4 linked regions of the Homo sapiens genome follow. The protein of the gene in region 3 purifies or fractionates together with the protein of the main gene of each other region. This does not show direct contact. Each region holds a gene or a part of one and is shown on either strand. Other genes may lie near its edges.

The links. The genes of interacting proteins can lie anywhere in the genome.
Region 1: the proteins of KCNC4 (region 3) and NPLOC4 purify together in Homo sapiens (affinity purification with mass spectrometry; 2 studies listed by BioGRID and IntAct, with this or other methods). This does not show direct contact.
Region 2: the proteins of KCNC4 (region 3) and ESYT1 purify together in Homo sapiens (affinity purification with mass spectrometry; 2 studies listed by BioGRID and IntAct, with this or other methods). This does not show direct contact.
Region 4: the proteins of KCNC4 (region 3) and BRAF purify together in Homo sapiens (affinity purification with mass spectrometry; 2 studies listed by BioGRID and IntAct, with this or other methods). This does not show direct contact.

What each region holds. Positions count from the first base shown.
Region 1 is NC_000017.11:81,567,613-81,571,112, forward strand, and holds part of NPLOC4 (nuclear protein localization protein 4 homolog), read right to left. Parts: intron 1,500-3,500; coding exon 1,404-1,499; intron 1-1,403. UniProt on the Homo sapiens protein: The ternary complex containing UFD1, VCP and NPLOC4 binds ubiquitinated proteins and is necessary for the export of misfolded proteins from the ER to the cytoplasm, where they are degraded by the proteasome.
Region 2 is NC_000012.12:56,138,267-56,141,720, forward strand, and holds part of ESYT1 (extended synaptotagmin-1), read left to right. Parts: coding exon 1-6; intron 7-137; coding exon 138-233; intron 234-501; coding exon 502-573; intron 574-660; coding exon 661-747; intron 748-3,454. UniProt on the Homo sapiens protein: Binds calcium (via the C2 domains) and translocates to sites of contact between the endoplasmic reticulum and the cell membrane in response to increased cytosolic calcium levels.
Region 3 is NC_000001.11:110,223,814-110,227,313, forward strand, and holds part of KCNC4 (voltage-gated potassium channel KCNC4), read left to right. Parts: coding exon 1-87; intron 88-2,161; coding exon 2,162-2,365; intron 2,366-3,500. UniProt on the Homo sapiens protein: Voltage-gated potassium channel that opens in response to the voltage difference across the membrane, forming a potassium-selective channel through which potassium ions pass in accordance with their electrochemical gradient.
Region 4 is NC_000007.14:140,778,430-140,781,929, forward strand, and holds part of BRAF (serine/threonine-protein kinase B-raf), read right to left. Parts: intron 3,265-3,500; coding exon 3,147-3,264; intron 1-3,146. UniProt on the Homo sapiens protein: Protein kinase involved in the transduction of mitogenic signals from the cell membrane to the nucleus. Phosphorylates MAP2K1, and thereby activates the MAP kinase signal transduction pathway. Phosphorylates PFKFB2.

The DNA of each region.
Region 1 (3,500 bases), on a different chromosome or scaffold from region 3:
GACGCAACTCAATACACTGAATGCTGAGACACCTCTCCCTCTGCCTCTGCAACCACGAACAGGGTCCAAGAAAGAGGAGCAGGCAGCTGCAAAGCAAGCTCTTGCTCTCTTCTCCCAAGAAGATGCTCTCAGCACACCTGACTACCCAGATGTGCAAGGAGACATGCTTATAAAGCTGACTCAGACTGGCCAGGTGTGGAGGCTAACACAGTAATTCCAGCACTTTTTAGGAGGCCGAGGCAGGCAGGTGGTCAGGAGTTCGAGACCAGTCTGGCCAACATGGCGAAACCCCGTCTCTACTAAAAATACAAAAAAAATTACCCAGGCTTGGTGGCGCGCACCTATAATCCCAGCTACTCAGGAGGCTGAAGCAGAAGAATCGCTTGAACCCAGGAGGTGGAGGTTGTAGTGAGCCAAGATCGCACCACTGCACTCCAGCCTGGGTGATAGAGTGAGACTCTGTCTTCCAAAAAAAAAAAAAAAAAAAAAAAAAGGCTGACTCAGACAGAGACACAAACATGGAAATGCGCCCTGGTCCCCCGGTGGAGAGTGGGCTGCGGGAGGGGCCTGGGGCCCCCTTCACGGCAGGGAGACAGGTCTGACTTTTCCTGTCGAGCTGTATTCTCCATCTAGGGCAGCAAGAGGGAGGAATGTGCAGGGCAGCCGTGATGCAGCACGGACATCTTCAGCAGAACCAAACACAGAGCTTCAAGAGTGCACCCCAATAACTGGCTTTGCACCTCTGTGAGCACCCCAAGTCCCCTGGGCGGATGGGCACTGAGGGGATCAAAGCATAGAAGAAGCTTTGTCAGCCACTGAAGAAAACCTCATTATAGACATTCTTTGACCACCTTCTGAAATGTCTGTTAGCAAGTTATGATTTAAGAACAACCATGTGTACACAGCCTGTCTACACAGTATGCAGGCGTGACAGCAAATCGGACCTGGCCTGATCTGCCAGTGAGAGCAGAGGCCAACACGGGAGCCACGCTAAGCAGCAGATCAACACTACACACGGGAAAGCCGAGGCCAGGCCGAGAGGGGCCACACAGCCCCAAGGTGCCTAAGAAGGGCAGCAGGTGACCAGGCAGGGGCCAGGCCAAACCAACAGTGACGAGGCTGCTGGCAGAAGACACAAAGCAACACATTTGGGAAAATTACGAGGTCCACTGAAGATGTGGCCAGTCAGGACGTCAGGGGATTAGCCTTTGTGGCCGTCCATCACCTAGCCATGGGAAGGGCGTCCACGTGACCAGCAGTGCCCCACAGTAGGCCCTAGCTGGCCTGTCACAAGAATGAATCGGGAGCATTTGAAAGCTTGATGTTTTCTGGAAAAACAATACTGACACTAGATAACAATCAGCAGTTACCTTAAATTATGTTTCTAAAGACAAAGAGCTCACCTGTGTCTCACCCAATACATCCCGGTTTTCAATAGGAAATGGATTTTGCGAAATAGAAAAAGTGTAAACTGGATCCTTGGGGAAAGTTGTTGTGATCTAATGAAGAAAAACACAAACCCATGATAAATGAGGCTGAAAATGGTGTGGCCGACTCCCAGCCAGCCCAGAGCATCTCCCAGAGCCCAAATTAACGACTCCTAGCAATTCTGAGAATGTTCTACAAGCTCTCCATCAAAGGGAACCGTTATCTATTAGTGTCATCTCTAAACGAACACTTGGAAACTCCGCCATCCTGGAGACAAACTACACCATATCCGGGCAGCCTCCGGCCTGTGCACCGGCCTCGACGTCGGACAAAAAGGGCACTGGGACTCCCCTCGTGGCACAGCTTCCCTTCAGAGTCACACAGGTTCTCTCCCTCTGCTATGGAGGAACGAAAGGCTGGTTTGGCCCCTTGGCCAGGTGACAGGAAAGGAACGGAAGGGCCAGGAGGCCGCCCCAGGAGCTGACTTTGCTCAAGAGAGATTCGTGTCATTGGATTCGGAGGGCAAATGAGCAATCAGCCAGCTTTCAAGACACAAAGCACCCTTCAGCAGCTCACTAAGCCCCTTCTGAATGCTGGGAGCCACTCCACGGAGCTGTGGGCTTTTCCAGGCAGGGGTGAATGTAAGGCCCTTGAGGAACACAGGGTTCAGCTCTTCTCTCTCCCTCAGAGCTGATACCCAAAGGCCAGCTAAGTCCTTCAGTCCTTCACTGGCTCAGACAGGCCTTAATGACAACAGAGGGCACTTTGCACCTAAGATATAATCAATAGATGCTACAGGGACAGTGGTAAATGTGCAAGAATCAATAGAAATACCACTTTTATTCTTCGTGACAGACACCCCTCCCCAAAGCAGCACCGAGTTGAGTTGATGCTGCTTTTCTCTGCAACACAACAGCAGCAGCAGAGGTCACACCTCTTCCAGATTTAGGGGAACTATTCTGGTTCCTTTGGGACTATTTCTAAAGAATGAGTGTGGTTCTGGTCTGTTTTCTGCATCAGCAAAGGCAGTGAGTTGTTGAGCTAGCTGGCCCAGGATTTGCTGTGCCAGCGCCAGCCGCTGTGGAAGGACAGCTGAGCCACCAGCAGCATCTCTGGCCTGAGCTGGCCCTTCATGGGCAAGCGGCGGGGTGGGTCATGAAGACTCGGGCCGCGGTGCCACGTGTCGGCTACATGGCCTCGTCAGTTAGGGATCCTGGGCCTCACTTTACTCTTCCTCAGGATGAAGATGATCGGAGTACTCGCCTCCTGGGTGCCCAGCACGGGGCTGGTACACATAGTGTTGGTACACACAGTGCTGGGTCCCAGCTGAAGACAGGGGAGGTGCTGACCTCCTGCAGAGACAAAAGCCTGGCCTGCTCAGGCGCGTCCCTTGGGAAGGCCTAGAAATGAAGAAGGCGGCACCCCCAGAACACGTGCTAGTGAGTGAGCTAGTGGGACTGACGGGGGCTCTTGCTGGCCTTGTAACTGGCCCTTGGAGGGGAACAGAACCAAAGTCCACACAGCCCATCCCAGATGTCCCAAGGAAGGGCATCAGCTCCCATCTTACACTGAAGCCATTTCCCTACCCTACCCATCGTCTATCAGCCAGATGATGCCCCCAGAACCCACAAAGAAACCCCAGTAACACTGGCTGGTGCCTTTTCCTGCCTGCCCAGCCATCCCATCCCAAGGTTTAAGAACCTTGGCTGAGGCCAGCGCCTGTGGCCCAGGGCTGGGCATGGAGCTTGACACACCTCTCTGGGCACCTGCTCTCAAGGACTCCCCATGCCTCACTTCCACAGGGTCAAGGAGCCTGGGCATCACAGAGCAGAATGCTCTCCCACAAACAAGTACTTCTGAAAAACTGCACTAAGGCAAAAACTTAACTTCCTTTATAAAAGAAGAGGAAAGAAGTGGGGAGGCTGCTTGGGGTAGAAGACCTGAGAAAGCTGGTTTTAAATCATGCCTGCTCCTCCTGGGTGCATGCTCCATCAATCTGTTTTCATCTTAATTACACCCTAGGTAGTCTAAAAACCAGATGCCTTCACGGCCTAGGTAATAAATATGTTCTC
Region 2 (3,454 bases), on a different chromosome or scaffold from region 3:
GAGGAGGTAGGGCAGGAGACTTGAGGAAGGAAGGGACCCAAGGTGGGGCAGGATGAGCTCTTCTCTTAGCGTTCAAGGCACATGCCAGAACCCAAGGTGTCAGTTACCACTCCCCAGCCCCGTGTGCCCCTCCACAGGTGCTGCAGGTGAATAGTTTGATCCAGACTCAGAAGAGTGCGGAGCTGGCTGCGGCCCTGCTATCCATCTATATGGAGCGGGCAGAGGACCTCCCGGTGAGATCCCGCTCCCCATGCCCCATAACTTCCTGGCCCTTCTTCCACCTTCCTCCGGTTTGGATGGTCCTGGAGTATTTAGAATAAGAAAAATGGCCCCTCTCTTTCTGAGGGTAGTGCAGGGGTGGGAAAAGTTGTCTGTTCAAGGCCACGGGTAGTGGCTGCCAAGTAATAATGGAGACATGGCTGCTGGCTGTGGATATAATTTGTGAGGGGGATCTGCCTAACTAGGTCCAAATTTAAGACTAACACAGTATTGTCTTTCTAGCTGCGAAAAGGCACCAAGCACCTCAGCCCTTATGCTACTCTCACTGTGGGAGATAGTTCTCATAAAACCAAGGTATGAAGAAATGCTGCAGGGTAAAAATGGGAGGGATAAGAGAAATAAGAGTATCAGCTACTGATCATAAGCCCTCATCTCCACCAGACTATTTCGCAAACTTCAGCCCCTGTCTGGGATGAGAGTGCCTCCTTTCTCATCAGGAAACCACACACTGAGAGCCTAGAGTTGCAGGTACTGTAAATTCATTCTTCAAATATTTAGCAGATTTCTGCCATGGCCAGGCAGGAAACCAGGCACAGAGCATTCAGAGATGAGATAAAAGGTTGACTTTTTTTTTTTTTTTTGAGACAGAGTCTTGCTCTGTCGCCCAGGCTGGAGTGCAGTGGTGCTATCTTGGCTCACTGCAAGCTCCGCCTCCTGGGTTCACACCATTCTCCTGCCTCAGCCTCCCAAGTAGCTGGGACTACAGGTGCCCGCCACCACACCTGGCTAATTTTTGCATTTTTTTTAGTAGAGATGGAGTTTCACCATGTTAGCCAGGCTGGTCTCGAACTCCTGACCTCAGGTGATCCGCCCACCTCGGCCTCCCAAAGTGCTGGAAATACAGGTGTGAGCCACCGCACCCGGCCAAAAGATTGACTTCTTATCTTTATGGAGCTCACACTCTGTTTTGGGAGAAAAATAACCAGATGAAACTTTCAGAATGATAACTGAGGTAAAAGGCACTGTGGGGAAGAAAGGAAGGGTTCAGGCTGGGGAAAGGCTGGAGATAGAAAGGCATCCTTAGATGACCCCTGAGCTTGAGGGTAGATTTTTTTTTTTTTTTTTTGAGACTAGAGTCTCACTCTTATTGCCCAGGCTAGAGTGCAGTGGCGCAATCTCAGCTCACTGCAACCTCAGCCTTCCAGGTTCAAGCGATTCTCCTGCCTCAGCCTCCCGCGTACCTGGGATTACATGCGCGTGCCACCATACCCCACCAATTTTTAGTAGAGACGGGGTTTTGCCATGTTGGCCAGGCTGGTCTTGAACTCCTGACCTCAGGTTATCCATCCACCTCAGCCTCCCAAAGTGCTGGGATTATAGGTGTGAGCCACTGCACCCGGCCTTTTTTTTTTTAGACAGGGTCTTACTCTGTCGCCCAGGCTGGAGTGCCGTGGTGCAATCAGGGCTCACTACAGCCTCAACTCTTGGGCTCTAGCAATCCTCCTACCTCAGCTGGGATAACAGGTGCACACTACCACACCTAGCTAATTTTTGTATTTTTTTGTGGAGATGAGGTTTTACCATGTCATCCAGGCTGGTCTCGAACTCCTGGACTCAAGCATTCTGCCCGCCTCGGCATCCCAAAGTGCTGGGATTACAAGCGTGAGAACCGCGCCCCAGCCTAAGGGTAGATTTACTGGTTCTTTCGGACCACGAAAAGAAGAGCAGGAAAACTCTTTAGGCTGAGAAAAAAAATGGAGGAGAGAGAAGGCATATTTATTATAGATCAGAGAGGCAGGCAGAGCAAGATCATAGGAGCTGTTGAATAGTATGCTAGAAATATGGATTTTATCCTAAGGCTTAGGGAAGCCTTTGTTTATTTTATTTATTATTTTTTTGAAACAGAGTCTTGCTCTGTTGCCCAGGCTGGAGTACAGTGATACGATCTCAGCTCACTGCAACCTCCCTCCTGGGTTCAATCGATTCTCCTGCCTCAGCCTCCCGAGTAGATGGGATTATAGGTGCCCGCCACCACGCCCAGCTAATTTTTGTATTTTTAAGAGAGACGGGGTTTCACCATGTTGGTCAGGCTGGTCTCTAAGTCCTGACCTCAAGTGATCCACTGCCTCGGCCTCCCAAAGTGCTGGAATTACAGGCGTCAGCCACCACACCCAGTCAGGGAAGCCTTTAATGAGAGGTCACATATCCAGATTTGCATTTTGGGAAGATCATAGGGATAAGAGGGTAAAGAATGGACTGGAGAGGGACAACACTGGGGGCAGGGAGATCAGTGAGGAGACTGTTAGAGCAGTCAAAGCAGGAAACGACTAAAGCCTGATGGGATTTGAAGATTGCTGTGATATGGAGCAGGTGGAGGAGCAAGGAACAGCCTAGACACTAACTCTGGGGTTTTTGGCACAGGGTGGCTAGATGGATAAGGGTGCCGTTGCTGACTTAGGGAGTGCACAGAGAGGGAATTTTGGAATTTGAGATCTCTGCAGGACATCCAAGAGAAGACATGCAGAAAACAAATCTATTGTCCATGAGGTGTTCCTCCCTTGCCCTCTTATTGGAACATCATGAGCAAGCAACCACTCATAAGTGTAGTCATGGGTGAGATCTCTTAGGCAGCGTGGAGAGTGAGGAGACAAAAGATGGCCATGAGCCATCTTACAGGTGTGAACCACTGTGCCCGGCTGAAATTAATAGAATTTAAAATAATGTAACTTAATGCTAGCAGAGTAGAAAGGAGGTACAAATGAGCTCAGTTCTTCATCTTTTATAGCAGGGAATCAATAGATACAAGCATATTAGAATTCCGTGAGAACAAAGAAAACAGGAGGGTTTTAAAGGTTGTTACATTTGGAATATGGCAATAGGAGTAGGATGGGCAAGAAACATTTACTTTTAGTTCTGTTTTTACTGTTGTTTTCTGTATGCTGTAGGTATTACTGGTATAATTTCTGAAAGCTAGGTTGGGCGCGGTGGCTCACGCCTGTAATCCCAGCACTTTGGGAGGCCAAGGCGGGCAGATCACAAGGTCAGGAGATCGAGACCATCCTGGCTAACACGGTGAAACCCTGTCTCTATTAAAAATACAAAAAATTAGCCGGGTGTGGTGGCGGACACCTGTAGTCCCAGCTACTTGGGAGGCTGAGGCAGGAGAATGGCGTGAACCCAGGAGGCGGAGCTTGCAGTGAGCTGAGATTGCGCCACTGCACTCCAGCCTGGGCAA
Region 3 (3,500 bases):
CTGAGGAGACTTCCCCCCGGGACAGCACCTGCAGTGATACCAGCCCCCCTGCCCGGGAAGAGGGTATGATCGAGAGGAAACGGGCAGGTGAGATTAGGGGTTGGGAAGGAAAATCCCTTTTCCCCCAGTGGCCTAGGGAGTTTCCAAATGGACCTCAGACCTTGGGATTTGGCATGTGTTTTGTGTGGGGCTTCCCTAAGCATAAAGATGTGCCTTTATGAGGGCAAAGTGTTGAGGCCGAATTTCTCTGTCCTCTGGCTGGGTCTCCGATAGCTTCCCGAACATCAGATCTTTGGAGTGAGTATTCCACCCAGGGTAGGGTGTGATGGGCAGTACATGGGGCTGTATATTAGATGCCCTGGTTTTAAATCCAATCTTGGCCACTGTGCTGTGTGCCCTGAGGCCAGTCACTCACCCTCTCTAGGCACCTGTAAAATGGGAATAATATCATATCCTACCCTCAAGACTTTGAGAGACCCAAATGAATGACAGATATGAAAGTACTTTGGGAAGTCAGAACCACATTACAAATGTCAGGTACTGTCAATATTAGCCAGTGAGCAGGGCAGCTGTTCTTCCAAGGTACATCAACACATGAATCACTTCTTTGCAAACGTTCGAGTCTGGTATCTTGGCCTAATAAATGTGATAACGTAATAGCAGTGGGAGGCTGCCTTCTGTTCAGCACAAGCTAGATTGAGTCCTGGGCTCAGGGTTTGACATGGGATGGAAAGGAACTGAGGAAGGAGTGGCCCAGACAGTGTTGGGAAGGGGAGGAACATGGAAGAAACTGATATCTGTGCCCTGGAAGGGGAGAGCCTGGGCATCTGAATCCTGTCCCTCAAGGATGGGAAAGGCCATCCCAAGAAAGCTCATCTCCGCCCCTGAATCAGGAGTTGGGAAATGGAAAACTGCTTAATCCCCAGCAATGTGAACTTCGGTTGGAGAGAGGGAAAGGCATCCTGACTGTTATGTGTAGGCTGGGCTCCTGGGAAAGGTATGGAATTCCTGGTATGGGGAGGTGGACTGGAGCCAGGAGACTAAGGCTAAGCTCTGGGGCAAAGTGGGACTGACCCTGCAGGAGAGGCGCCTAGCTTGGGACACTCACCTATGGCCTTTGGCATGTGCCTATCATACATGCCCGGGTCCACTCATTCCCGGGGGTCATGTCAGGGGCCTGGGTCTTCCGAAGGCCTTGATAGAAGAGCATCCATCAGGCTTCCCATTTCTCCCCCACCAAAGTGGCACTGCTTCCTAATTTGTGAATATTAATTTCCCGGGGAATTTCAGCTGCACTCTGAGGCCCATTCAGGGTATAAAGAGAATCCCAGTATTAAAACGTAGAAGTCCTTAGGTCAGCTCCTCAAGGTACACTTAACTGTGGCCCTATCAGCCTTGCCCTTAGCCTGACCCTGAGAGCAGCCACAGTAAGGGCATGCCTGGCCAATGGCAGGGCCACTGTCTTCAGATAGAGTAGCACCCCCTTCTCCAGATCCAAGGGCCCAGCTTCACCTGTGCTACTGCCTGACAGAGGCAAGGGGTGGAGACTAAGCCCACAGCACTTGAGAGCTGCGTCGGAGCTTTTCTCATGGTATCCTCCCCAGACAAAGGTCAGCCCTAATTGCGGAGGGCTCTAGGTCTTTTGGGCACAGGACTCTGGCCTAGATGCCTAGTGAACAAGAATTACTGTCACCCAGGGAGAAAGCATGGACGCCACTTTATAGGTTTAACCCTTGCCGTGCCACCCCTCACCGCTAGCAAGCCAGGTATTCTCCACGGGAAAGCAGACTCATCCAAGAGTCAGCCTGAGCCAGACCCAAGGAGGAAGTAGAGTCTGCGGACTGCTTTGGGCTGATCTCCTGGGGCAGCCGTCAGCAGGCAGATTTGGGGAGTCACTGCTGTAGGGCATCTGCACTGTGGCTTCATCCCTGAGGAGAGACCCTAAGCTGAGGCTGGGAGGGAAGTCAGTCTTCACACCAAGTGTAGCATCCCTGCCTTTTGCCCTCTGCTCCCCGGCTCTGGCAATGCTGCCTCTCAGGTAGATGCTAGGCCCCTCCCAAGGTTGAGGAAGTAACACTCTGGGTCTGGGAGACCCCAGATGACCCATGAGCAAGGCTCAGGTCGCCCCTCATGCAGCCTCCTTTCTGTGTGCCCCCTTCAGACTCTAAGCAGAATGGCGATGCCAACGCAGTGCTGTCTGATGAGGAGGGAGCTGGCCTCACCCAACCCCTGGCCTCCTCCCCGACCCCCGAGGAGCGCCGGGCCCTGCGACGCTCCACCACTCGAGACAGAAACAAGAAGGCAGCTGCCTGCTTCCTGCTCAGCACTGGGGACTATGCCTGCGCCGATGGTAGTGTCCGGAAAGGTATGGCTTCCCAAGCTGGACAGGTGGGGAGCCCCCACAGAGCTGAGTCTCCCGAGTCCCCCACCAAGAGCCTGAGGTCCCCCCCTCCCCTGAGACCGTGGCCGCCATCTCCTCTGCCTTGGATGCACCCCCACTTTTAGAATGGGTACCTGATCTCCCAGTCCCTGGATTAGAAAGGTCTTCTCCATCTCAGAAGGGCACACGGCTCCCATCCAGCTGCCCATGGGAAAGAGCAGCGCTAGAGGGTAAAGGGTGCACAAGGCCAGGGTCCCTGCCCCGTGCTTCCATTGCATCTCTTTTTCTACCTCTGGTTCCCGCTGCTGCCTTCAGGCCCCATTCCACAGGGTCACTGCCAGCCTCTCCCTAGGCCTCCCTTAAACACAGCTAAGGCTTCCCAAGTAGGTGACCCCTCGAGGTGCCAACAACGTTCAAGAGTCAGGGAGCCCCACACAGGCCCTGCATCCTCCCATCCTGCGCCAGGGGTCCTGGAGCACAGGATGGGCAGACTTCCGTCTGCAAGCACCTAGAGGGTGACTGTCCTCTTGAGGCAGTGCCAGAGATGACCAAGGGGTGGGATAGGTGGGCAGGAAGAGTGGGTCCCATCTGAGGAATGTTCTGAGTATTTGGAGAGAGAGGGAGCAGCCCATCCTCTGCTTGTCGGAAAAGGCTGAAATTCCATCCCCAGGCCCCAAGCCTGCGGCAAGGCAAGGGCAGAGGTTGGGCTGTGGAGCTAGGGATTCCTGGCCTCGGAAAGCGGGTAGGAATGATCAAGGATGGTGGAGGGCCCGCGGTGGCTGAGAACCAGGGGTCTTAGGACCAGGCCCTCCTACCCAGTTTTCGATCACTTATTCGTCTCTCTTGCCCTGTCCCTGTTACCTAACCTCACTCAATGTTCTACCTCTTTCTAGAATAAACCCTGACTCCCTCCAAAACAGAGCTCTTCCCCAGGTTCTCTGCCACTTCTTAACCAGCTGGATTTCCCATCCCCCACTTCCCTCTGTCCCCAAACCCCAGACCCAAACTAGGTTGAGTGAGGAAGGGGCAGTGGCAGCTACAGGAATAGCCTGTGATGCCTCTGTCCCTCTGAAGATGTCCCAATGTCCCGTGGCCTGCCAGCCCATGCAGGCTCTGTGGG
Region 4 (3,500 bases), on a different chromosome or scaffold from region 3:
GTAATGTTGAAACTACAATTACCAGGCCCTATGGAATTTTGCTTAAAAGTAGGAAACTATAAAACTTTTTTATCAGAGTAGTTAACATTTTTTTCAAATTTATGGATTACTTATGATACTTTCAATTAGGAAAATGACTAAAACTGTCACTAAAATTTAAAAAAAACTTCATGTGAGTTAATGGGTGCAGCACACCAGCATGGCACATGTATATATATGTAACTAACCTGCACACTTTGCACATGTACCCTAAAACTTAAAAGTATAATAATAATAAAAAAAGAAAATGATATTTTATTAAAATCATCAAAAAAAAAAAACTTTATGTGAAACAGCTGTAACGTCAACACTGCCAGTAGGTGTTTAAATTGGTACAACTACTTTGTAACATTGTTGGCAGCATTACTAAAACTGGACATATGCATACCCTGTGGTCTCACAATTCTGTCCTAGGTATATATACCCATCAATGGTTACATGTTCACCAAAAGACATACACTAAAAATGTTTACAGCACCAGCATCAATCAAAGCCCCAAACTGGAAACGATCCAATTGCAACAGATGAAAGAAGAAATCATGTTATAGTCACACAATGAAATACTGTAAAGAGAATGAATGACCTCCAACTTCACACAACAATATAGATGAATCTTATAAACAATGTTGAGTGAAAAGGGCCGACACAAAAGAGTACACACTATGCACTTCCTGTTGTAATCACAGTGGTGGTTACCCTTGGGAGAGAGGTGATTGGCTAGAAGAGGACATGGGAGGGTGTTTCTAGAGTGCTAGTAATGTTCTGTTTATTTAATTTTTTTAGAGACAGAGTCTTGCTCTGTCACCTAGGCTGGATGGAGTGCAGTGGTGTGATCATGGCTCACTGCAGCCTTGAACTCCTGGGCTCAAGCCATTCTCCCACCTCAGCCTCCTCAATAGCTGGGAGTACAGGCACATGCCACCATGCCTGGCTAATTTATGTGCACTTTTATACACAGGCTGAGTATCCCTTATCCAAAATGCCTGGGACCAGAAGTGTCTCAAATTTCAAATTTTTTCTGATTTTGGAATATTTTGATTATACTTACCAGTTTAACATCCCTAATCCAAACATATGAAATCCTCCAATAAGCATTTCCTTTGAGCATCATGTCAGCACTCAGAAAGTTTTGGATTTTGGAGCATTTCGGGTTTGGGATTTTGGATTAAAGATACCCAACCTGGCCAGGTGTGCTGCCTCACACCTGTAATCCCAGCACTTTGGAAGGCCAAGGTGGGTGGCTCACCTGAGGTCAGGAGTTTGAGAACAGCCTGGCCAACATGGCAAAACTCGTCTCTACTCAAAATACAAAAATTAGCCAGGGGTGGTGGTACGCGCCTATAATCCTAGCTACTCAGGAGGCTGAGGTAGGAGAACTGCTTGAATCTGGGAGGCAGAGGTTGTAGTGAGTTGAGATTGTGCCACTGCACTCCAGCCTGGGCGACAGAGCGAGACCTTGTCTCAAAACAAAACAAAACAAACAAAAATAAATAAATAAAGATACTCAACCTGTATGTATATTTTAATAAGTTAAATCAACATTGATTTTCCTCAATTATCAAAGTAATACAGTGCTTATTCTACTGTTTGTATCATAAAATACTGTACAGCACTTAAGAAAAGTTTAAAGACATTTTGAAGGTATAAAAAAATTCCCTTAATTATGTCACTCAAAAGTGACATTATATGTTATTAGGCTTTTACATGAATTTAGTGTGAATATTTATGAACACCTGTGAAAAGATAGATTAAGGAGATAAAAACTAAAACACAGTCTTTTTTTTTTTTTTTTTTAAGACAGTCTCGCTGTTATCCAGGTTGGAGTGCAATGGCGGGATCTCGGCTCACTGCAACCTCCACCTCCTAGGTTCAAGCAATTCTCCTGCCTCAGCCTCCTGAGTAGCTGAGATTACAGGCGCCCACCACCAAGCCTGGCTAATTTTTTGTATTTTTAGTAGAGATGAGGTTTCACTATGTTGGCCAAGCTGGTCTCGAACTCCTGACCTTGGGTGATCCACCTGCCTCGGCCTCCCAAAGTGCTGGGATTACAGGCGTGAGCCACTGTGCCTGGCCTAAAATACTGTCATATAAAAAATTATGTTATATATTTCTATGAGCTCCATAATATGGTATCTTACACATACTGCTTTGAAAAATTTCATATACCAAAGACACCTTTCTACATCAATAAATGTACCTCTACCATGCCATTTTAACTCCTATATAATCACATATGATGGTATAAATTTATCCAATTCTCTATTAGTTGGATACATGTTCACTTTCACTTTTCATTGATATTAAACCTTTGATGAAAATACATCCACTACTCTTAATATAATCCAATTTAAAAAGATTTTGTCCAACTAAGAGGCAAATAATGATGTCTATTTTTTGAATTTGCAATTCTTTGATAACTAGTAAGGCTGAACATTTTGTATATGTTTACTGGCCACTTATATTTCTTTGTTAATTTTTTTTTTTTGAGACGGAGTCTCACTGTCACCAGGGTGGAGTGCAGTGGCGTAATCTCAGCTCACTGCAACCTCCGCCTCCTGGGTTCCAGTGATTCTCCTGCCTCAGCCTCCCAAGTAGCTGGGACTACAGGCACGTGCTTCCACACCCAGCTAATTTTTGTATTTTTAGTAGAGATGGGGTTTCACCATGTTGGCCAGTATGGTCTTGATCTCCTGACCTCGTGATCAGCCAGCCTCAGCTTCCCAAAGTGCTGGGATTACAGGCATAAGCCACTGCGCCCAGCCATTAAGTACATTTTTAATATGTTTACTTGTGACTTATAATACAAATAAAATTATCAGCTGAAAGACTCTAAAAGAAAATAAAATCCTTTTGAGGACTAGTTAACCTGGAGGAATTCCCCTTTAAAAATTATTACTGTAATAAAATGGTAGGAGTCCCGACTGCTGTGAACAGTTTTTATTTCCCATAATTTTTGTTAGAAACTTTTGGAGGAGTCCTGAAACTAATCAAAATAGTTTATTGATGCGAACAGTGAATATTTCCTTTGATGATATTTTTTACAAAATAAAAGTTGTTAAACATATCCTATTATGACTTGTCACAATGTCACCACATTACATACTTACCATGCCACTTTCCCTTGTAGACTGTTCCAAATGATCCAGATCCAATTCTTTGTCCCACTGTAATCTGCCCATCAGGAATCTCCCAATCATCACTCGAGTCCCGTCTACCAAGTGTTTTCTTGATAAAAACAGTAAAAAAGTCAAGTCAAGCCAAACAGAAAAAGAAAACCTTATGTTTCACCCTAAGTACATTACCTTATGCCTGAGAGGGATACAGGAAGAGATCCCCTTAAGAAAAATTCTCTGGAAGAATAGTAGTTAAAAGTATGACTCTTAAAATACAAAACTTAAATTTAAGACTGAAGTCAATATTAGGATGGAAAAAATTTATTTTTATTTTTTATTTTATTATAC